Linked DNA regions of Homo sapiens: region 2 is linked to region 1. Evidence: fine-mapped QTL for protein levels in blood plasma. A gene starts in region 1. The other region holds a variant in brackets. All regions are shown on one strand. Distances are between the middles of the regions.

Region 1 (16,547 bases):
CAACAGCAGTGAGGACAGGCTTTGGAATGAGGGAGAAAAAACCTGATAATGGCCGTCTGGACCAGCCCTCTCAGAAACCATCTGCTTGAAGCTTTTGATTCTGAGAGGAGTGGAGAGGTTTCCTCCAACTACAAGTTCAGGGATTTGGAAACCACTAAAATAATATCTTTTCCAAAACTAGTCCAGCAAGGCTCTAATTGGGAGAAATGGGAAATGGAAGTCAGGCTCCCCACTCTCTCTGCTAACCACACACGGGCCGTGGTTGAGGTCCATTTCCAAATCACAGGAGGCCACTTCCTGTCTTAGCTTAGCATTGTTGGCGGGAGAATCTAACAAGGGGCCAAGGCCCTGTTGACTCTGGGAGAGAAGCAAATGGCCACCATCCATGAGTAAGAACCTGGACTTTCATCCAGCCTGCGGGTTGAATTGCCTGCTCACAAGAAATCTAGGTTCAGAGCGTTCTAGGGCAGGCACAAAATAAGCAGGACAGAGATAAAAAGATGGGAGTGAGAATGGAGAGATTGTATTTTTCCTTCCACAGATGCCATGGGGGAGCTGGGGCAGGGAGGAGCTTATCTTCCCCAAGCTCCTAGACGAGGCAATTCTTATTTCTAGCTGAATTCCTTTTCATCTCTCCTGACTTCTTCTCCACCCTTCTCCTCTATCTGCCTTGGCTTCTGGATCTTCTCAAAGCATCCCCCAGAAAAACTTCAGCCAACTTACTCCCTTTGACCAACTGTCATTTTTGAAAAGCTGCCCAGTCTCTTTGCGGTGATTTTCAAAGAGAGACCCAGGACTAGGTTTTCTTTCAGTGACAGCAATAGGTAGGAGGAGGGGTGAAGAAGACAGGAGTTTCTGATGTGGGAAACCACACACACACACACACACACCCCTAAGAAATGCTGAATCTGTAATTGCAAGACAATATAACCTTCCTGACATCTGAGGAAGATGTCAAGAAAGAAAAGCAAAAACTCATATTTGTGTTATAGCTGCTGGGGTTTCTACATTAGGGAGAGCTGACCCTGTTTGACCTTGCCTGTCGAGACCAGAGGGTTACAGAGAGACTGACCAAAGATATGTGGCCAAAAGGCCAATCATATGTGGGCAAAACTGGCCAAGCTGATCAGTTTGACACGTCAAAAGACAGATGTTGTCTGACTTGGGCAGCTTGTGGGCCAGAGAAGAAATCCAAAGCTCAGTATCTAAGAATGCAAAGGCGAGCAACAGTGTGAACCATCACCTGTGCTCCAGGTAAAGCCTGCCTGCCCTGCGTCATCACTTATTCAAGCAAAGGACTAAGAGCAGCACAATTCTGGCTTGTTAGTGTATGGCCTGAAAGTGAAGACTTCATTTCCCTTCTTCCCTGTGCACTTTCCTCGTCACTGTTCAATACAGGTGCCAAATGTGTCATCATGCTTGATGGAGCCTGGCGTTGGCTGGCTGGCTGTGATCAGCAGCTGACCACCTGACAGAAACACTTTCCCTAATTACATTTTTAACTTGGATTGTGCCACACTTAGTTACATTTTTGGGGGGAAAAGAAAGGAAGGGAGGGAAGAACAGTGAGTGAAGGAGGTTTGCAGAAAGCTTCAGGGCCAGATAGCACACAGACAGCCCACCTTAAAAATCAACACATCTTCCCATTTGTAACTTAACTACATGTCTAAATGTTGACATCCAGTGAACAAATATTAATTAAAAACCCAAGACATTCAAAACTGCACAAATGTCATCTTCCATTGTGTGAAATCAAAAAGGAACGTGTGGGTGAGTGGGGAGGTGGGGAGACACACCATAACCTACCTCTTATTGGTAATGAGCTTGAATTGTGGAAGGATACTTTCTGACTTCATACCATTTCTTATTAGTATGATGGTCAAAATTACAAAAAAAAAAAAAAATCACTCAGACTAATGGTCTCTTGTGGGCAAGTGGCGAAGAACACTGATTTGGCTTATTTTATTCTCTGTACTTCTCCTGGTGTGGTGGACAGTTTGCTGATACAATTATTTTGGATAGGACTTCATGTTAGGTATTGGCATGGAGGCATCCACATTTTTTTTTTTTGAGATGGAATCTCACTGTGTTGCCCAGGCTGGAGTAGAGTGGCACGATCTCTGCTGACTGCAACTTCCACCTCCTGGGTTCAAGTGATTCTTCTGCCGCAGCCTCCTGAGTAGCTGGGATTACAGGTGCCCACCACCATGCCCAACTAATTTTTGTATTTTTAATAGAGATGGGATTTCACCATGTTGACCAGTTTGGTCTTGAACGCCTGACCTCAGGTGATCTGCCTGCCTCAGCCTCCCAAAGTGCTGGGATTACCAGTGTGAGCCACTGTGCCTGGCCCTCATATGTTTATAAATCACTAGATTTTAAATATTGGCAGGGCTACAAACAAGGAGAGCTTGTCTGTGAAGAGAAAAACAATTAGCAAGGTCCTTCATTGTTTCTTCCTCTGCTGTCCATTCTATTTATTTGTCTGCTGCTAGGATCTAGGGGTGTCCTCGACCCTGCACATAATGGCAGGCCCCCTGTCTTCATCAGCACTGCTACATCCTCATATTTGGCAGGGAGCACTCTCATTTAAGGTAATGAGTGACTCCCTTTCACAATAGAACTCTGAGTGTGGCTCAAATTCACCCTGGCTAATGAATCTTCTGTATGGTTTTTTTTTTTTTTTTTTCTGAGGCAAGGTTTCACTGTCACCTAAGCTGGAGTGCAGTGGCACAGTCATGGCTCACTGCAGCCTCAACCTTCTGGGCTCAAGCAATCCTTCTGTCTCAGTCCCTCAAGTGACTAGGACTACAGGTATGTGTCACCACTGGCTATTTTTTTTGTTTGTTTTTTGAGACGACATCTTACTATGTTGCCCAAGCTCATCTTGAACTCCTGGGCTCAAGTGATCCTCCCTCTGCCTCTGCCTCCCAAAATGTTGCGATTACAGGTGTGAGCCACCCTGCCCGGCCTTGTGTTTCATTTTTAACCCTGATATAAGTAACAACACATCTGCTTATTAATATGTTCATGTTAACATTTACTATCCAGTTTGGGTGGAAGGAGAGTGTTCTCTGCCTCTGAGGTCCAGTTTTAACATTTATAAGTGCAGCGGGTCCTCCTGTTGTGGCCCACAAACCTTACTTGGGAAAATGTCACATTTGAGCAACCACACAAAACTACTCTGTGATCTCTGAATATAGTAAGGTCACCAGCCCCCACTTGATCTTCTGTTAAATGACCAAGATCATTTCTGGTCAGAAAGTATGTGTGTTTTTGCGAGTTTTTTTTGTCTTTGTTGACACATAATGGTGTAGAAATCAAGCTTAAAACTGATTGTAGAACAGTTTGGTGAGAAAGATTTTTGCTTTTCTGCCATAATATTCCCCTGGACTTTGCTTCGGGTCCAAAGTAACACCGGGAAGTTTAAGACCACAGAAATGTGACTAAATGAATGCTGATCACATTTACAAAAGCAAGTGACTTTGTCCAAAGTCTCTCATTCTCAGATCCATAGTAGACATATAGATACTTTTTCTAAGGGCAAAATTTCCTGGTTCACTAAGCCAGACTTCCATGTTATTGACGAAATAAAGATAATATTGAAAATGACAGTGTCTGAGAAGCAATCTCAAACTGCCTTTTATTACTGCACACAGTTAACGTGGAATTGAGAATCACTTTCTTTCTAACATAAAATGTGAGCCGTAGAGTTACTACTGAAATTCACCACAGTGATTCAGCCAACAACTCAACTTATTCCTTTGCAAAAATTTCTGAAGGTTTTTTTTTCTCCCTTCAATCTCAGCATTACAAAATAATGAGCAAACAGTTAAATTGGCCCAGCTCTGAGTTTCAAGAGAGATTTATGGTCTGCTCATCCTCTGGAGGGACCATAAAACCACCGATGACATCTTACTTTGAAATCTCTTGTATTAAGTAAAGAGATGGGTGTGGTGCGATAGTGAACTCTGCATGTGAGTGGTATTTAGACAAGTTCTGTACTTCAAAACAGAGTCCTTAACTCATACGAAGGCTTCCTGCCACTAGCAAGGGATCTCAGTAATGAGCGTGCTGCCTTCCCTAACACCCCCATCCTTTTCCAGAAAGATTCTTAATTTTATCCTAAATATATTTGATATTTTTTCCTCTGTATTTTGCTTTGGGTTTAAAAAATTCCCTGAAAGATTTTTTTCTCGTCTGTGGAAGCATCAAGCCGCAGATCCAAGTCAGTCCAAATCACCAGGATCATACAAGACGATAAAAGTGCCTTCAAGTTCTAATACTTGCTGGATGGGCCCAAGCCGCGTTTTAAATGTGAACAATGGGGTGGCTGCGGCAGAGAACTGACCATTTACTTCCTGCCTCAGATGACCCCCTTGTGATCTCTGAAACTGGGCAGAGGAATAAGGAAAGGGAAAGAACTGGGTTTTGGGGAGAAACATGCTTTCTGGAAGGCGCCCAGGTTTACCCAAAGAGCACAGTTAAGTGCTGAATTTCAACTAGCTCTGGAGTCACCCTGTTTGGGGCCTCATTCTGGAAACCCGAAGTCCAGCGGCAGCTTTCCTCCACATCAGGACAGAGAGTGGGGTTTGGGAGCGGACGAGGGAGCGGGAGTGGACGAGGGAGCAGGAGTGGGGCTCAACGACGACCCAGGCGCTCAAGGGGAAGGGGCTGAGAGCGTTTCTTCGCTGTGCGGCTGCAATAGAAACTTTTTCCTCGTACTATCTGACTCCGGGACTGGACTGTGAGGTCTGCAACAGCTGGTGGGGTTCGGGTGGGGAACACACTCTAAGCCCAGCGCCAGGGCTGGAGCCGTGGGTGGAGCCGCTGCAGCCCTGGGCCGGGGGCGTCAGGAAACTCGAGACTGGGGCGCGGGGAGGCCCCGGCCAGAGCGCCCGCTCTCCCGCGTCCCGGGCGGGGTCCTCACCTGTTCCAGCGGGCCACCTTCCTCCGGTAATACCGCAGCGCCTCCTGGCTGGCCAGGAGCGAGTCCTCGGCTCCCAGGAGAGGCGGCTCCTCCGGGACGTTGTACAGCGGGTGGGCGAAGAGGGCCTGCAACTTGGAGCTCGACCCGCTGTGGCTGCCGCCAGCCGGTTCAGTCCGGGGCTCGGTTCGGGAAAAGTTGTGCACGATCGTGCCGGGGTCCGAGGCAGCTGCGGCCGAGTCCCGCGCCAGGGAGGAGGCGCGGCCGGTGCACGGGCACCCCCGCGGGCGCTCCCGAGGCCGCAGCTGGCGCTGTACTTGGGGCCAGAGGTGGAAGTAGAGGTCGGCGGAGAGCAGCGCGCCCAGCAGCAGCAGAGTCAGTAGGCGGTCCCGGCGCAGCCCCGGCATGGCGTGCTGGCCAAGGGGGACGCCGGGGGCAGGCCGGCTGTCTCCGGGGTCCCGGGAGGGGTCGCGGGGTGCGGGCAGAAGAGGTGCCTGGAGTCCCGCGGGTGGGCCGGGGTCAGTGAGACCGGAATGCTCCCCGCGCGGGCTAGTCCCCTGTGGAGGGGTGTCGCTCCTCAACTTGGGGACCAGGTGCACGGAGCACCGGGGCTCTCGGAGTCAGCGGGCGTCGCTTCTCCGCGCCGAGTGAGCCGAGGGAATGGGGTTCCCGGGGTGCCCGCTTCTTGCGCCTTTTCTCCCGTGCGCCCGCCCGCCCGGACGCTCGCGGCAGGTGAAGGGCCCCGGGGCGCCGGCGCCGGCTGCCACCGCGGGCGGACGGGCGACGGGGCGGGGGGCGACCGCGGAGGGCGGACGGAGGCCGCCGGCTGCAAAGCCCGGGGCGTCTCTCCTGAGGATGCTGTCGCTCGGCGGCGGCTGCTAGTGCTCCCGCGACTCCTCCTGCGGGCGGCGGAGACGCCAGTGCCGGCGGCTGGCACGGGCGGCGCGAGTGGGGAGTTGGCGAAGCAGGAGCGGCTCCGGGGAGCTTGTCTGTGCGCCTGGACTCCTAGAGGCAGAGGTAGCGCGGGGCCTCCCCGAGCCTGGCCTGGCGCCGGCACCCCCACCCACTCTCCGCTGGCACCTGCCTCTGGCGCAGCTGACGGCCAACTCCCGATCCGAAGCCGGCGCTGCCCTTGCACCTTGTCACCCACCCACTGCCTGCGCCCTCCCCCTCGCTCGGGCCTCCCACTTTCCCTGCCCAGGTCTCAATCCAGTCACTTTAAGGGACTCACGCGAGGGGTCCGAAGCCTCTTTTTACCATTTCTATTATTTTTAGGGAAAAAAAAACCACCACAAGCCCCCTAAAACCCTTTTTTTCCTGTAAGCTTTGCCAAATGAGTGTGTGGGGGGGGGTGGGGGGAGGCGGGGGTGGCAGTGTTGGTATCTGTTCTTTCTTTGTGTTCCCTTCCACCTCCGCCCCCCTGCAGAGCGCAGGGCACATCAAGATTCATAACAACTACCTACCACATGCCTGGCACATAGTAGGTGCTCAGGAAACACGCTCTTGGTGAAGGAAAGAGCTTGACCTTTAAAAGTAAGGTATCAGTTTTACCTAGAATCTTGCTGATTTCCTGTTTGGAAGGAGTTTGATTCCAACTCTGCCTGTACTTTAAAAAGAGGAAATGTTTCTTGCACTCAGGGAGGGAGGGGCCCTGATGACCCCACTCCGAACTTTTGAGTTTAGCTTGGTGTGAAAGTAGTCCACCCAAATGAATCACTGGAGGACACATTTAGGCTTTCTCCAATATTCTGTGAGGTAATGTACCCTCCCCACACCCAGTTTTCCTTTTGAAGAAGAGGGAGGGAGTCCTGAACTCCTGGCTCCTCTATTTAATGACCCCATAGTATAGTAAAGTGAAGTCTGATTGGAGAGGCGGCCCCACCCTGCTGAATTTCAGGAAATCCACCAGAAGCTGCTTGCCCAGGCAGCAAAGCTTCCCATGTAAGTTAGTTCTACTCTTTAACCCCCTCCCTTCCCTTGCTGGAATTGAGAACCCTCAGACATACTTTGACTTGTGGGTTCAGACCAGAGTTCTTTTCCCCGTGGTTCAGTGTAAGATTTCTTCGGGACTTTGCAGTCTCCTCAAATGTAAATGAAGATAATGATGGAACCTACCTCCTAAGGTTATTATGAGACTTAAATGAATTGAAGTACAATTATGTGTCACGTCTGAGAAATGCATCCTTAGGCAATTTTCCTGTGTGTGTGAACATCAGGGTGTACTTACACAAACCTAGATGGTTCAGCCTACTACACACGGAGGCTACATGGCATAGCCTGTTGATCCTAGGTACAAACCTGTACAGCATGCGACTACTGAATGCTGTAGGGAGTTGTAACACAGTGGTGAGTACTTGTGTGTCTAAACATAGGAAACATACAGTAAAAATACAGTATTGTAATCTTATGGGACCACTGTTGCATTGACTAAAATGTTATGTGGCACTTGACTATGTATAAATTACTTAGAAGAGCTCCTAACTCATCCTAAATAAGTGTGAAATATGTGTTTGCTATCATTATGATTACTTATTAGTTCCTGTAGTACACTAGGCTTGGTTAGAGACTGCTCATCGCTAGGACAAAAATAGAAAAGGATGGAAAAGGAAGATAGCAGGAAGGAACCTGCTTTCAGGGGCATAACATTGTGGCCTGAGTGCCCAGTCCAAGTGAAAAAGCCCAAGACGGTACTATTCCCAGCTACTCCACTCCTCTGGGTATGATGGTGGGCATTTTGAGGGGTTCTAGAACCTCCTCCTTTTTATCTGGAATTAAATTTTAACTGATTTCCAATTTCTGAGAGACGTTGCAACTTCTAATGTGTTTAATTAGATGTCATGGCAAGCGAATGAAGAAGTCAGGCATTGAATGGTGGTGATGTAACTGCAGTAACTGTGTGGCAAACTGATGCGCATTTTTCTCGGCTGGCAAAGGACGTGGATGTGGTGACACTGCAGGTCTTGTGACTTCAATTCTCCTCAACCCATGGGGTCATACTCGCTTAGTAGACTCTTTTTTTTCTGGCCCCAATTTAGGGAACAATAGTGTAACTTGCTTGGAAATTATGTAAACATATTTTCCATGCCCTTTAAAGGTCACAGTCAAGTGCAGAACTGCATGTGGGAGTTAGATATTAAGTGTGAATGAAGCTGGATAGGAGAGTGGAAATCCTACCAGTAGGATTGGCCAATAGGATGTTGGCTTCCTCAGGTTTGCCTCTAATCTACCTTTACCCCTCCTAGAAATGAGCCTTCTCCTGCTCCTCCGATCTTCCATGTCTTGGGCCCTGGCTTACTTGCCAGCCTCACATACATCCTCTCCGTTCACACTGAAGGTATCCTAAATTGCTGTTTGCTGGGACCCATCATTCTGTTTAAAATCTTTCATTGGAAGCCCCTCCCTCCTTTTCCATCTCTACTGATCTTGATGTATCTAGAGCCTCATAATCTCTTGCTCATACTTGCAAATAGGCTTCTAACTGGTCCCTCTGCTTCCATGGTACCTTAGTTCAGTGCCCACACACACTCTTGCCAGAGTGAGACTTCTAGTATGCAGAGGCAACCAGGATATTCTCCTCCTGAAAACCCCCTGAGCTTCTCCTTGTTGCTGGATTAGGTCACTCATTGTGACACAGCTCTTCGTGGTCTGGCTTCTACCTCCTTTCTTCTTTATATGCCCCCTCTTTCGTCTTCACCCCACAAGACTTTCTGCAATTCCCAAGTGCTCCAACCTTGTAGGGGTGGGTTGCCCCTCCACACCTGTGGGTGTTTCTCATAAGGTGGAACGAGAGACTTAGGAAAGAAAAAGACACAGAGACAAAGTATAGAGAAAGAAATAAGGGGACCCGGGGAACCAGCATTCAGCATATGGAGGATCCCCCCAGCCTCTGAGTTCCCTTAGTATTTATTGATCATTTGTGGGTGTTTCTCGAAGAGGGGGATGTGTCAGGGTCACAAGACAATTGTGGGGAGAGGGTCAGCAGACAAACACGTTAACAAAGGTCTTTGCATCATAGACAATGTAAAGGATTAAGTGCTGTGCTTTTAGATATGCATACACATAAACATCTCAATGCTTTACAAAGCAGTATTGCTGCCTGCAGGTCCCACCTCCAGCCCTAAGGCGGTTTTTCCCTATCTCAGTAGATGGAGCATACAATCGGGTTTTATACCGAGACATTCCATTGCCCAGGGACAGGCAGGAGACAGATGCCTTCCTCTTGTCTCAACTGCAAGAGACATTCCTTCCTCTTTTACTAATCCTCCTCAGCACAGACCCTTTACGGGTGTCGGGCTGGGGGACGGTCAGGTCTTTCCCTTCCCACGAGGCCATATTTCAGACTCTCACATGGGGAGAAACCTTGGACAATACCTGGCTTTCCTAGGCAGAGGTCCCTGCGGCCTTCCGCAGTTTTTGTGTCCCTGGGTACTTGAGATTAGGAAGTGGTGATGACTCTTAAGGAGCATGCTGCCTTCAAGCATCTGTTTAACAAACCACATCTTGCACCGCCCTTAATCCATTCAACTCTGAGTTGACACAGCACATGTTTCAGAGAGCACGGGGTTGGGGGTAAGGTCACAGAATCTCAAGGCAGAAGAATTTTTCTTAGTACATAACAAAATGGAGTCTCCTATGTCTACTTCTTTCTACACAGACACAGTAACAATCTGATCTCTCTTGCTTTTCCCCACACAACCTCTCACAGATGTGTCTTTAACCGAAAGCTCTTTCTCCTTTCCCCACCTGGAAAACACCCATTAGTCCACCCAAGCTTTGGCCACTTGTCCAATTTTTCTCTGATGCTTGTCTTCATACCCATTAAACTCAGTGCCTTGTGCTCTCATGTGCCCCCACAGCTCCTCATATGTTCCCCTATTACAACGTTGGCCATGTTGGGTTTCCTTTTTAGTATGTGTTATGGGTTGACTATATCCTGCTCTCAAATTCACTTGTTGAAATCCTAACCTCCAATACTTCAGGACGTTACCTTATTTGGAAATAGGGTTGTTGTAGAAATAATTAGTTAAGCTGATAGCGTACTAGTGTAGAGTGGACCCTTAATGCAATATGACTTGTGTCCTTATAAAAAGGAGAAATTGGGACACAGAGACATGCATACAGGGAGAATGCCCTATGAAGATAAAAGACAGATTGGGCAATTCTTCTATAAGCCAAGGAATACCAAAGACTGCCAGCAAACACAAGAAGCTAGGTAAGAGGCATGGAACAAATTTGTCCCTCACAGCCCTCAGAAGAGTCCAACTCTACTGACACCTTGACCTTGGATTTATAATTCTAGAACTGTGAGACAATAAATTTCTGTTGCTTAAGCCACCCAGCTTGTGGCACTTTGTTACAGCAGCCATTGCAAATTTACACAGTACACATGTCTGCCATCTTCACTGGAGCACTACTCCTGAGTGTAGAGGGAGAATGCTACTTATATATGTACACAGAGCTCTGAGGATGGGGCCTATCATTTGAGAAATGCTCAAGAAATGTTTGCTGAGTGAAGGCAGAGATATTGGCCATCTCTACAACTGTAGAATCTCGCATATGGCCTAGTATACAGTAGGGGCTAAATTATTGTTTACAATAAGATGACATAGCTTTGGACCCTGTAGGAGACATAAAGAAATATATGACACAATTCCTTCCTGCCTTCAAGAGTCTTGTGATCATCAGAGAGTCCAGCTATACCTGTACTCACAAGCCAATGGGAAAAAAGTATGAGGTAGTACACAGAGCAGATTAGCAATCTGTGCCATTGCATGCATTAAGAGGAGCAAATGCAAAGGGCAGTTGTGTTTCCTTTCAGTCTAGCTAAATATCAAGCTCTCTACTTGCAGGAGTTAAATCATGAAAACAATAGAGTCAACATTTAAACACCAAGTTCCTCTATCTGTGAAGGTTAGACTCTATTTTTATCTTGCCCATGTTCCCGTGTTGCTTAGAACTTGACTAGTTGTTTTTTGTTTGTGTAGGCAGTTTTCTATACTAGACTATAACTCCATGAGTTCAAGGGTAACATGTTTTCTTTTTTATTTTCCTGTCTTCATAGGATCTTAGACACAGCAAGGCATGCAAATGAGAATTAACAAATTCCTGCAGAATAAATGATGTTTGTGGGTTTATGTGTGTTCATACATGGAGGTGGGAAGTGGTTTGGAAAAGAGCACTTAAAATAAGAACATAAATGTATATAATCTAGCTCAAGATAAGTGTTAAGTTAGAACATCTACATAAGTGTTAAGTTAAACATCCGTTATGGTTTTTTTTTTCTTTAGACAGGGTTTTTCTCTGTCATCCAGGCTGGTGTGCAGGGTGGCAGAGTGTGATCTGGCTCATGGCAGCCTTGAACTCCTGACCTCAAGTGATCCTCCCACCTGTCAGCCTCCTGAGTAGCTGGGACTACAGGCTCATGCCATCAGGCCTGGCTAATTTTTTTTTTTTTGGTAGAGATGGGATTTCACCATGTTGCTCAGGCTGGTTTCCAACTCCTGAGCTCAAGCTATCTGCCTGTTTCAGCCTCCCAAAGTGTTGGGATTACAGACATGAGCCACTGTGCCTGGCCCCAGTAGATGTTTACTTAGAACATCAATGGAAATTGCCTTGATCCTATTGAAAAACCAATAAGTAAGAGACACATAAAGAAATAACTAAATGTAGACATCTATGTCCCTCACAGTTTTTATTATAGTATAGATGCATGTGAGGAATGTTACCTTTACCTGCTAGCTGTCTCAGTAATCAGCAAGAGATGCAATTGAAATTACTATAAATGGAAGACCTAGAATGGAGTGAACTTAAGAAACTGAAACTGATTTAGTATTGCACTCAACACCTTATTCTGAGGTAGAAAGTCCAAAATTTTCTAATCGTGACCAACACATAATGCCTCAGCATAAGCCAGAGATTTCTCAAAGTGCAGCCTGTGGATCAGAAGTACCTGATGTGCTTATAAAAATGCAAATTCCAGGGCCACACCATAGTTCTAGTATTTTTTGGAGGTGGGGCCAGGAATGTACATTTTCAATAAGCTGATTCTTACCAGCTTATAAGATTCTGACACACATTGAAGTTTGGGAATCACTGGTTGAAAGGACAGTGCTAATGAGAGCAAAGTCACAGATTTGATTCCAAATAGGCTAGGTAGGATCCATTGTCTAACATTGGCCATCCAACTTGTGTCATAAGGTTCTAAGGCGCTAAAGAGAGAGAGACAGAGAGTACGTGTTTCCCCATCATTGCTACTGGGGAACACAAATAAACAAATAAGTGCCTGTTCTTTACAAATGATGGGTATGTAGTGTGATCTTGCTATAAAAAGTCATGGCTGTACTTATTGGTAAATTTCCCCTGGGAAACTGAACTACCTTCCCTGGATCTCAGTTGCCTCATTTGAAACATGAAACGCTGAAGTGAATGATCTTTAATGTCCTTTTCAGCTCTAAAGAATGAGAATTTTACTTTTTTTTCTACTAAGCATATATTAATCTAGACCTTTTCACACAACTTTATTTCCAGTATAAACCAAATACTTGAGAAAGCAAACCAAGGCATTTTGTAGGAAGAGTAAGAGCACTGGATTGGGAGTTAGGGAGCTTACACTGTAATCTTGGCTCAGTCATTAACTAGTTTGGTGGCATGGGACAAATTAATTAATGTCTCTGGGCTTCCTTTGCCTCACGTGTAAATAACTATTTTGTGGTAGACAATTTCAAAGTTCTCTTCCAGCATTGAGTTCCTTCAGGAGTGAAAATGAGGTAAAGACATTCTTAGATGAAAGAAAACTAAAAGAAACAATCACCAGCAGACCTGCTCTAACAAAAATGCTAAAGAAAGATTTCAGATGGAAGGCAACTGCCACCAGAGGGAAACCTGGAACATCAGGAATGAAGGAAGGGCAACAGAAATGGTGAAAATATTGGTAGATATAACAGATTATTTTTTCTCATCTTAAGTTTTACAAAATATACCTAATAATTGAAGACAAAAATTATAGCATTATCTGATAGAGATTCAGTATACAGAGACGTAATACGTATGACCACTACAATACGAAGGGAAGAGGGTAAAGGGACTTGTTTGTTGGTAAGAACTCTGCATTCCACTTGAAGTGGTAAAATATTAATTCCAAATAGCTGAGAAACATTAAGTATATATGTTATAATTCCTAGATTATAATACTATACTGTACTAAGAGATATAATAAAATTAAAAACTATACTGAGAGACATAATAAAAATAATAAATATATTAAAATGAAACACTAAAATTACCCAAATCATACAAAAGAAAGCAGAAAAGGGGAAAGAAGAACAAAAATATAGGAAATAAACAGAAAACAAATTATAAAATGGTAGCCCTAAATGCAAACATACTGATAATTATATTAAATATAAATGGCCTAGACACACCAATTAAAAGACAGAGATTTTCAGAATGAATTAAAAAACAACTCAATGTTATGCTGCCTACAAGAAACCCGGTGTATATATGACCACTGGTAACTTAAAAGGATAGAAAATGACATATCAGGCAAACACTAATTAAAAAGAATCTGGCATAATTATATTAGTATTACTCAAAGTAGCAATCAAAAAGACAATATACCAAGAAGTCATAATAATTCTAAATGTGTATGCCTCTAACAATACAGCTTCAAAGTACATGAAGTAAAACTGATAAAACTGAAAGGATAAATGGGAAAATTCAACAGTTATAGCTAAAGACTTTAGTGTTTCTTTTTCTGCCACTCACAGAGCAAGTAGACAGAATATCAGCAAGGATATAGAAGAACTGAAAAATACTATTGGCCAACTAAATCTAATTTAACATTCATAGGACACTTCACTCAAAAGCAGCCTAATACACATTATTTTTAAGTGTACATGACATTTACCAAGATGGACTATATCCTCCATTATAAAACAAGCATTTAAATTTAATATAATCAAATCTTACAAACTGTGCTCTCTGCTCATAATAGAAATAGACTGGAAATAAATGACAGAGAGATATCTGGTAAATCTCCAAACATCTGAAAACATAAACATGTACTTACCACATGACCCAGTAATCCACTGCTAGGTATTTACTCAAATGAATTGAAAACTTATGTGTGCATAAAAACCTACTTATGAAAGTTTTATAGCAGCTTTATTAATAATTGCCAACATTAAGTAGTGCATATGTCCTTCAGTGGGCAAATAGATAAACTGTTGTACATCATACAATGGAATACTACTTAGAAACAACAAAGAACAAAATATGGGTATACATGACAGCATTGATGCATCTCAAAGGCATTATGCTGAGTGATAGAATCCAGTCTCAAAAGGTTACATATTGTATGATTACATTTATATGATAGCCTAGAAATGGAAAAGCTATGGTGACAGAGAATAGATCATTGGCTGCCAGGCATTAGGGACCGTGATGAAGGTATGACTACAAAGGTACAGCATTAGGAAGTTGTTTTGGGTGATGGAACTATTCTATATCCTTATCATGATGGTGGTCATGTGAATCCATCCATGTGTTAAAACTGACAGAACTGTACATTAAAAAAAGGGCAACTTTATTGGCCCTATTGTTCAATTATGTTAAAACAAAATAAAATAAAATAAAAAACAAAGGTTGCATACCTCCATCCAAAAGAATTTTGCCTGTAGCCTGGCTCATAATAGCAAATAATTGCACAAAAAAGTAAACATCCATCTATAGGGAAATATGTTAATAAATTGTGGTATTATTATGTAATGAGCAGTTAAAATGAAGGAAGTACAACTGTATTTTCTCAGCAAAGATACATCTTTAAGTTGTAAGAAAACATGAATATGGGGTGTGTGTGTGTGTGTGTGTGTGTAGCAGTATGATACTATTTAGATAACCTTCAAAACTGGCAAACTAGGCCAGGCACAGTGGCTTACACCTATTACTCCAGCACTATGGGAGGCCAAGGAGAGAGGATCACTTGAGGCCAGGAGTTTGAGACCAGCCTGGGCAACATAATAGGACCCCTCTCTACAAAAAATTTTAAAAATTAGTCAGGTGCAATGGTGTTCATCTGTAGTCCTAGCTACATGGGAGGTTGAGGCAGGAGGATATCTTGAGCCCAGGAGTTTGAAGTTATAGTGAGCTATGATCATGCAACTGCACTCCAGTGCCTGGAGACCCTGTCTCTGAAAAAGAAACAAACAAAAAATTGGTAAAATTATAAAAACATGCATGAGAATAATGAATACTGTCTTAGTCAGTCTGCTGCTATAACAAATATACCATAGATTGGGTGGCTTAAATAAAAGAAATTTATTTTTCACAGTACTGGAGACTGGTAATTCCAACATCAAGGTGCTGGCAGATCCAGTGTCTGATGGGGACACTCTTCCTGGTTTGCAGATAGCCCTTTTTTCATTGTATCCTCACACACTGAAGAAAGAGTGAGCATTGGTCCTTTCATCCCCTAATAAGGGCACTAATCCCATTTATGAGGGCCCCATCCTCATACTCTAATTACCCCTTGATATGATTTGGATGTTTGACCCCTCCAAATCTTGTGTTGAAATTTTATCCCCATTGTTGGAAGTGGGGCCTAATGGGAGGTGTTTGTGTAATGGGAGCATATCCTTCATGAATATATTAATGTCTGGGAGGGTAAGGAAGACTGTTCTCATTCTATTAGTTTCCGGGAGAGCTGGTTGTTAAAAAAGAGCCTGGCATCTCCCTCCCCTCTCTCTTTTGCTTCCTCTCTATGGCCATGTAATCTCTGTACACACTGGCTCCTTTTCACCTTCTGCCATGAGTGGAAGCAACCTGAAGCCCTCACCAGAAGCAGATGTTGGTGCCATACTTCTTGTATAGTCTGCAGAACTGTGAGCCAAATAAACTTCTTTTCTTTATAAACCACCCAGCCTCAAGTATTTCTTTATAGCAACACTAAAATACTGAGACACCTCCCAAAGACCCCACCCCTTAATACCATCAAATTGGGGATTTAACATATGAATTTGAGGAGAACACAGATATTCAGTTCTTAGCAAACACCAAATTCAGCACAGTGATTACATATGGAATTAAAGTGAGAAAAAAGTGCTTGTTGAAGATTATACATGGGGCTTCAGCAGTAACTGAAATGATTTCTTAGAAAAAAGATCTGAAGCATATATTACAAAATGTTAAAATTTGACAAAGTTGGGTAGTGCTATATGGATGTTGGTCACATTATTCTCTATCACGTTATGACTCATTCTCTTTACTTTTCATATTTACAATATTTATTAAAAATCTGACTTGATTCATTTTGTGACCTCATATCCTGGACTATTCTAGGTTTTTAAAGAGACCATTGAAAGAAAGCGTTGGGCTTTGACATTAAGGTGAAGCAGGTTAATAAGCAGCAGCAGTCAAAGAAATTTGCTCTATTTTATTTTAAAGGAAATACATGGTAGAGGGCAAGGAATATGTGTAAGAGCAATTTCAACTTAAATTAACTGAGTTTATATTTTAAAAGGGGAAGAAATTCACAGATTTTATGCGTGGCTGCTTTCAGACTGTGCAATTCATCTGAACAGAACTCTTGCATATATTATGTGAGCTTTACATGCCAGACTGAACA
Region 2 (8,252 bases), 66 kb before region 1:
TTAGATGGGCTAAGACAACATCAAGAAGCAATGGCTAGATAACCATTTAATTTGTCCCCAAAGGTACGTTTTTATCTGTCTATTTGTCTATTTATCGATCTGTCTATCTAAGATGGTCTCACTCTGTCACCCAGGCTAGAGTGAAGTGGCATGATCACTGCAGCCTCTCTGCTTCCCAGATTCAAGTGATTCTTGTACCTCAGCCTCTGGAATAGCTGGGACTACAGATGTGTGCCATCACACCCAGCTAGTTTTTTGTATTTTTAGTAGAGGTGGGGTTTTGCCATGTAGCCTAGGCTGGTCTCGAACTCCTAAGCTCAGTTTGCCCACCTTAGCCTCCCAAAGTGCTAGCATTACAGGTGTGAGCCAGCGTGCCCGTCTCCCAAAGGTATTATTATAATAGCTATCAGTAAACGCTGTAGCTATGTGAATTTCTTAAATCTCTTCCTTCCTATGCTATGTGATTTTTACATAGAAAGCAGCATTGTTATGTACATGTACCGCTAACATTTGTTTCTTGACATAAGTTCAGAGCTGTGACTTCATCTGGACTACACCTAAAACCAAAACCACTGAGTAAGATTTTTTCATTTTGTGAAAGTTCTGCCAATTTTGCTTAAGTAGCTGTGTGATTTTAAAGGTTGCCACTAGATGGTGGGCTTTTTTTAATCTTCGTTAATCTCAAATGAGTTAACTGTTGATCCTTATCATTCATGGATTCTGTATTTGTAATTTACCTACTTGCTAAACTTTATTTGTAACCCCAAAATCAATAGTCACAGGGCTTTTGCAGACATGAGCTGGGAAGTGAAAAGTTTGAGCCTCCCAACACACATGTTCCCAACTGAGGTGGAACAAAGGGATGCTCATCTTTCATACTGTGAATAAGTGTCCTTTTCTTGGGTCTTTTTAGTGCCTTTTTTTTTTTTTTTTTTGCATTTTTGTATTTTTTTTGTTGTTGGTGATTTCACTATTAAAAGCCCCTAAGTGTAGTGATGAAGTGCTGACTAGTGTTCCTAAGTGAAAGAAGGCTGTGTTGTGCCATATGTAGAAAATATGTATATTGGATGTTTCTTTTAGGTCTGGGTTACAGTGCTGTTTGCCATGAGTACAATGTTAATGAATCAGTATATATTAAATAAAGTGTCTTAAACATGCGTTAACATAAAACACGCACACAGCAAGATTATGTATTGATCGGTCAATAAAAATGTAACTAGAGACTCCCAGCAACCTAACCCTGTATTTCCCCTAGGAGCAATGTTCAGTATTTGCCAATGCAGTGTTTGTGGTGACTTTATGGAACATAAAACTAACTCGTAAGAGAATGACTAATTTTTTTGTAATATTCAAACTCATATTGTCTTCCTGGCTTTTGAGAAGGCTAAAACGAATTCTTCCAAATGCCTCTTTCCATCAGTACAGTTCCCGTTCATTTTTTAGTTTGCTGTCAGTAGTAACTTGAAAAGTTCTCAGAGTCAAGAGACTTTTTATTTCATGGGAGGTAAACAGTTCAAAATGAACATGCTGGAAGAACTCGAGTAAGAATGAAACGGTTGGTTTTCTGATATTTTTGAGAAATGAGTCTTAATTTTGTTACTAATCAAAAAGTAATGGAAGGTTGAAAGATAAGTGAATAATAAGGTAGGTGTACCACATATCATGGTGAAATTCAAGCCTATTGCTTTCTGTTTGTAGAGTGCAGCAAAATGTGTATATAGGCCATTGGAAAACCAGTCCTTCGTTATAGGAGGTGGCGGGTTTTGAGGTAGAGCTGTAGCCTGCTTTCCTGAGAGTCTTATTTGGAAGTCCCAAACCATTTTGTGCTATTCTTTGAATGTTTTTACCCAGATATTTTCCCATTTCTGTGTGTGATCTCCTGGTTCTTCATCCACAGGGAAGAAACATCTTGAAGCAGGAGAGACAGTGAATGAAGTGGGGAGCCCTATGCTGCAGTAGGGCCACAACAGTTAAGGAAATCTTTGGGATTAAGGTTTCTCTGTTAAAGAGTTGATTTAAAAAAAAATTTTTTTTTTTTTGTATTTTTTTGTAGAGACAGGGTTTTGTCATGTTACCCAGGCTGGTCTCGAGCTCCTGAGACCAAGCGATCTGCCTGTTTAGGCCCAAAGTGCTGGGATTACAGGTGTGAGCCCATGCCCAGCTGATTTTTTTTTTAAGCAAACAAATTTGACTTCATAAATTGGGTGGGATACTGTTGGGTTTTGTGTTACAGTGAAAAGAAGACTTTGGAATAGGTCTAAACCACTAAATTGTGTGATTTTGCTTACTCTCTCTGAGATTTAAAGTTCTTCCATGCACATTGGAGGATGGGGGTTGTATCTGTGTTTGAGAGGATTGGAAACCTGTGTGTTGCTTCTGTAGCGTTGGTGAGTGCCTCACCTGGTCAGATCTCAGTGAATGGTAGTGATTTTAGAGAGACACAAAGTCCAGGGGCAGCATACCAGTCATGTGGGGGTACCACGGGGTCAGAAGTGTTATTTGTCCAGTCGAGGCTATCTTTGCTCACACTGCAGAAAGCTTGGAGACATTTCTGGTTCTTGACCTTGTACTCTCTTTAGTGACAGCTCCATTCTATTCTCATGCTTACAGTATTTGAACTCTGGCCTTTACTGGAAAAGTTGATTTGATGAAATGAGGCATTTTTACTTTTGTTGACTGACTAGTCACTCCATGGAATGAAGACCTTACTGTCCTTTGTGTTTTCGGTCATTAATTATGGAATAAGAAACAAAGCCTCCTATTAAAAGGAGTTTCAGATATCAACAAGTCAGGGAGAAGGTAGAGGAGACAAGGAATCCCTACTACACTTTCTTCTAAGGGAGGCTTCAATAAAAAACCTGACTTAGTCTTTTTTGAGCCAGCCGTCACAGGGAGGGGCATCTAGAGGGCCTCACCTTTCCACATAGCCCCTTTCTTCTTTTGGGGATGGGCCGGGGACAATCCTGGGGTCTTAGGGAAGAAGATTGTGGTTGGTGGGCTGTAGTCAGCCTTGGCTCTTTTCCTGCCTTACTCCAGGCTTGTGTCCCTGCTAGGCCTGTTCCCATGCCATCCTGACCTTGGAGGACTTTCCTTTTTTTTTCCTTCGTTGTAATTATTTATTCTGTTACTGGCTGCTTAGTGTGACATATTTGATGTTATTTCAATTGTAATACTCTTCAAATTGGAACACTCCTTTTCTGATATTCTTAGCAAATCCCTCTTTTATTTTTGCCACTTGTTATAATATCTCTAAGAAGTTACTCCAGGACCGGGCAGTAGGGATTACTGATTCAGATGGGTCCAGTGACTAGAATATGAGTAGAAAGTGTGAGGTCTAATTTGAACCTGTCAGAGTTACTGTTGCCTGCGCTGGCCCAAAGTGCAGATTTTTAGTCAGCTTGTGATAGGCCAGGTGTTTTGTCTGGACCAGGAGTTATCTTTGACTTGTAGCTAGAATAAGGATCCTGAGAAGTCAGGTATCCACTTGATGTCCTTTTATTTGACTTGTTACCATTAGTACTCTCCTGGGATCAAGGCTGCCAAGCCTGACCTATACCCAGATTTCCCAGTGCACTCAGGAGATCGTCGGTGGCCTTGATGAAGCCAGTGCTTTTTGGGAAAAACGGAGCAAGGCAACGCACGACAGAAGCGGTGCACCAAGGAGTAAAGATTCAGTTCCATGGGCCCCACTTGCTGTTTGAGAAAATGTCCTGCTTCCTTCCTAGCTGACTTGACTCCCAGCAGTAACAGGTGGGAGTGAGGACGCAGGGTCGGCACTCGAGTCGACTGCTCTGGCTCCAGGCGTATTTTCTGAAACTGGACTCTGCCAGCCCTTAGCTTGTCAAGTTAGCCTGGCCAGAGTCTGGGGCCAACTGTTCCACTGGGCCGTCGACTATGACACTCTGCTGTCCATGGGCCACTATGCACCCCTCCACTGTCCTTAGGATGGTTTGGAGCCTTCGATCCAGGGCAAGGAGGTGGGGTTCAGTGAGGACAGGGCTGAGCTGGTCTTCCAGCAGTGATTCTCGCATCACATCGCTGAGTCTGTAGTCAGCTTGGGCCAGCAGCTGCAGGTGCAAAAGTGTTTTCTTTTTTATCCTGAAAAGACAAAGTTACAGGAACCAAATAAGCAAATGTAAAGAAAATAACTTGCCTGAACTTCTTTCCCCACAAACAGCTGTTGTAGCTGATACTCTTGGCGCCTCTCCTTGTGTCTTCTCAGGCACATTTTAATGGAAACCAGGTAAAAAGGGAACAAATGAAAGGCAAAATCCAGTATCCTGCAGTCCTTTGCCCAATTGCGATTTGGTCAAGAGCCTGCATAGCCATTTGTGCTCTAATAATGGTGATGCTGGGCTATATGCATTTTCTCTGACAACGCTAAGGGAATCAAAACCAAAGTGATACTTAGGATTTTTCAAGGAGATTTAAAGCTAATGGGAGAAGTTTCTAGTAGGTGAATTGATGAGCTATTTGCTGTCTCAAAATCCCCCAGTACTGCCAGCCTTTAAGTTGTTTCTTGCTAACTTTATTTCTGTTTGTCAGATTTTAAAATCACAGAGATGAAAATGTGGTAGGACCCATCTTTAGGATTTCAGTTTCTTTTTATGTGGGAATCTGACTTGGACTCTGATGTGTAAGCAGCTTAATTGACTTTTGTCAAAAACAGGTACTGCTCATCCAGTCCTGCTCTGGAGGCAGGGAAGGGAGGCCAGAGGGAAGCATGTTTAAATTAACCTAAGACATAGATGAGGAATACTCATGCTCTACTCCGAGTTTTCCAGCTGGAAACAAATGAGATGTTTTTGCTAGGTGTGAATATCATATTTATAATTAGCTCTGCATACTGCAGCTGAGCAGGTGGTCAATTTTACAAGCCTGGCTGAAACACTGGAGAAGTGTGGAAGTAAGTTAGACATTCTCTAGAGAAATGGTGGCCAAGCAAGGGCCTTCGTGCCTTCTTCCAGTCTGCACAGGTTTACAGGACTTTAATCAGGGTTTTGCTTAGATGGTGATCAAGTAGTAATATTTATGAGCCGATATGAATGCTGGGCAAAGCAGAGGTCTGATTAGTAATATCAAAACCCAGCAGACTGCAAAAATAGGTGATTATCTGAGTGGGTCAACGATTAAAGTTGGCAATTGAAAGGTTTAAAGGATTAAATCCTAATTCATCCTATGTGGAAGGATGAAAAAGACAAAACGTTGTGGGGGAAATTTTGATAGTTGTAGTACAGTCATGAATCGCTTAGTGATGGGGATATGTTCTGAGAAATGTATCCTTAAGCGCAGGTTTTGTCACGGTGTGAACATCAGAGAGTGTACTCACACAAACCTAGATGGTGTAGCCTCCTGCACTCTTAGGCTATATGATAACTGCTTGTAGGCTACAAAACCTTTACAACACAGTGGTGGATAGCTGTGTATATAAACATAGAAAAGATAGTAAAACTGTAAAATGCAGTAAAAATACCATATTATTAATCTTATGAGACCACCGTCATATATGCAGTCTGTCATTGGCTGAGATGTCATGCAGTGCACAAATGTGTAGGAAATAAGGTGATTCATGTCATTCTACCCACTTACGTCCTGGACCAGTGAAAACTGGAAGCCCTTCAGACCTTGGCTGCAAGCAGCATGAAGGGTCACAACTGTTACTTGCCCGTATTATCTGCTGCAGGAAAACTTACATGCAGCACTGGGAGAGAGGCGAGAGGATGGAGATTTCATCATGGGAGTGTCGTCCGAACCTAGGAGGAGAAACAGGCTTTTATGGGTGGCCGGCAGCATCCTTTGCATTCCCCTGAGGCTTCCTCTCTCCTCTCAGCATTTTGTGAATCAGAGATTGGGGTAAAATGCCAGGGATCATGGCAGCTGCCTCTCCAGCCCCTCTCCCCAGTCAGATCACAAAAGCATCTGTACAGAGATGTTAGAGCTAAGCAATCCTTCATTCATTCACTAGCTGCAGAGGGCCAGCCACTGAGGATGCACCTTGCTCTCGAAAACCTCACCCTATTTCACTAGAGGGCACACGAGTGCTCTCAGGCTGGAGGAGGATCAAGTGGTTCTTGCAAAGGTAAAGAGAAAGAAGGAAATGGAAGAAGCCGGGCTCGAAGGAGACAAGGCACGTGGTGGTGGAGGCCCTCATTTGCAGGGCGTCTGTTTCCCCCGAGCAGCTGGCTGCACAGAGCAGCACATCTGGGAGAGGGGATTGTTGAACACACGTGGGGAAGCTCACCCTCTGGCGTTGTCAAGGTGAATAAGGAACCCATCATCCCCGAACTTGGTGAACATCTCATAATGGTGCCGGTCCATATTCCCTGTGAAGGAGGGGAGGACTTAGCTGGAACCAGCAGGCCAGGGGGACAGGTGCTCCTGACCTGAGTTCTCTCCAGGGAACGGAGGCCTGTCATCACTTGAGAGACAGGGGTGTGAACGAAGCTGGGCCTCACACTGTCATTTCCTCAGGGCCATCAGTGAAGCAGCCGCAGGAGGGAGAAGGAAGCGAAACAAGCAAACCCTAAATGGACTGGCTTCAAGTCTAAGGCTTTCACCCCTGCCCCTGCCCCTACTCCAGCCTTTGGCCAGAGATTTGAATGTGCAGAAAGTCATCTTTTCACCTCGTGTATGTATTGACATTGGCTTTCCTCAGCCCAGAGATCCTCAGCTGATCCTGGTTATAGTAAACAGACACAGCTAAACTTCCTGAAAGGCACGATGATGAGCCAGCTGTCTGACTTGCTTCCGACCTAAGCTCCTGTATGACGGCCACCTTCATAAGTGTCTCGTCTCCCTAGAAGTCCCTGTGGGCCTGGAAGGTGGAATTACTAGTCTTGTGTGTCCGTGGCCTCGCCTGAGGCCCTCCCTGCTACATATTTGTGTACTTTCTTCCCTTCCTACCTGGTTTCCCCTCACTTGGTGAAGTGAACATACAGCTTCCAATCTGACGCCCACTCAGGCCCGTGGCAGGGTGAGATGCCTGCCTTATGAGTGA[C/T]GACCCCTTGAGCTTCTTCCAGTTCTTTGAAGAGAGGGGAGCCTGTTACCTTCTGTCCTCTGGGACCTCCGCCACTTCTGAGGCTGTGGGAGGTGCAGAGTTACTCAGTCCTCATGAACCAGGTTGTAAGTTTGTGCTCAAGGTCACGGGGAACCCTAGCCACATAGCAGAGCCCACTTCTGCTGGGGGCCTGCGTGTGGGGACCTACCTATCAAGAAGTCGAAGATGGCCATGTCGATGACATTGAGGAGCCGCTGGCTGTTGTTGTACGGGTAGATCTGTTTCACTGTGTCACAGTAAAGGGGATTGACCTCCCACCTGAGGGGGAGAAGAAGTCCTGGGGCTGGAAAAGCCAAGATGGCAGGGTGTCGGGGGTCTCCCCACACCTCCCCCTGCCCCCCCAATCCCTGCCTCCCTGATCCTGCCCTGGGCTGGTGGCAGCTTCTAAAATTCAGAAAGGCCCTGGGCAAGGACGCGTAAGGCTGCATATTCCGTGTGGTGAGAAGGTCCTGGGTCCTTTAAGTCTGGTGGACACTAAACCCATGGTTGGGATACTGTGTGCCAGAGGGGAGAGGCCGGGGCAGGCAGGAAAGGAGGAGGTAGTGACCCTCACCTGCTTCCTCGTCCCTCCACAGTCCCTCTCACCAAGCCTCTTGGACCCTGCGCCACTCATAGCACCTCCATGGGCTGTTCCTGCCCTTTCTCTCTCACACATGGTTTTCTGCCTACAATGCTCCGATGCCCATTTTCATCCGAGGGCTCTTCTCAGCCTTCACAGAGTCCCTTAGGATCTGTCATGTCCTCCAGAAATTCTGCCTGGTTACTTCTTTTCCCACGATGATCATGACGGCTTGACTGATGGATCGATTCACTCAGTCAGCTAGTGTGGAGTACCTGCTATGTGCCAGGGAGGGTGCTAGGTCCTGGGGATACAGCAGTGAGGTCCTTGGTCTCCCAGGGCTTGCTCGGGAACCAGGTGTCCCTCCCATGGGATTCTCGTGTGCTCCCTGGTTATAGCAAGTGCTGTGCTGTGTTTTCGTGATCTGGCTACATGTCTGTTCTCCCCACTAGACCAAGGAGCTTCTCAAGGAGAGAGTCTGAGTCTTCCATTTCTGTATCCCATAACACCTAGTGTTGGGTATATGGAAGGTTCTTTAGAACTGAATAAATGAACTAAAGGGGAGAACAGACCCAGGCCTGCTGATCCCAGGATCAATATGAAATGGGGCAAAGGAGTATTGAGGCAGCTTTTCAG

Direction of the effects. Positions count from the first base shown, and alleles are read on the strand shown. Strength reflects both the effect of a copy and how common the allele is.
In carriers of allele C in region 2, the plasma level of the protein whose gene starts at base 6,035 in region 1 tends to be lower than with T alone (weak association).

What was found. PIP is the posterior inclusion probability: the model's chance that the variant is causal. The UK Biobank Pharma Proteomics Project read protein levels with antibody pairs (Olink). The fine-mapping took linkage between variants from a reference panel, not from the people measured, so its PIPs are less certain.
Region 2: its variant is fine-mapped to the plasma level of the FAM20A protein (UK Biobank, PIP above 0.99).

What each region holds. Positions count from the first base shown.
Region 1 is chr17:68,595,333-68,611,879 of GRCh38, forward strand. It overlaps FAM20A (FAM20A golgi associated secretory pathway pseudokinase), which reads right to left and starts at 6,035. Exons shown (of 11, transcript NM_017565.4): 1 at 4,931-6,035. The coding sequence starts at 5,334.
Region 2 is chr17:68,533,644-68,541,895 of GRCh38, forward strand. FAM20A (FAM20A golgi associated secretory pathway pseudokinase) reads right to left here. Exons shown (of 11, transcript NM_017565.4): 8 at 7,206-7,315; 9 at 6,242-6,323; 10 at 5,694-5,753; 11 at 1,473-4,098. The coding sequence ends at 3,834. It also overlaps a transcript of PRKAR1A not described here. Among named protein-coding and RNA genes, the nearest start is that of PRKAR1A, 25 kb to the left of the region's middle. The variant C/T (reference allele first, on the strand shown) is at 6,998.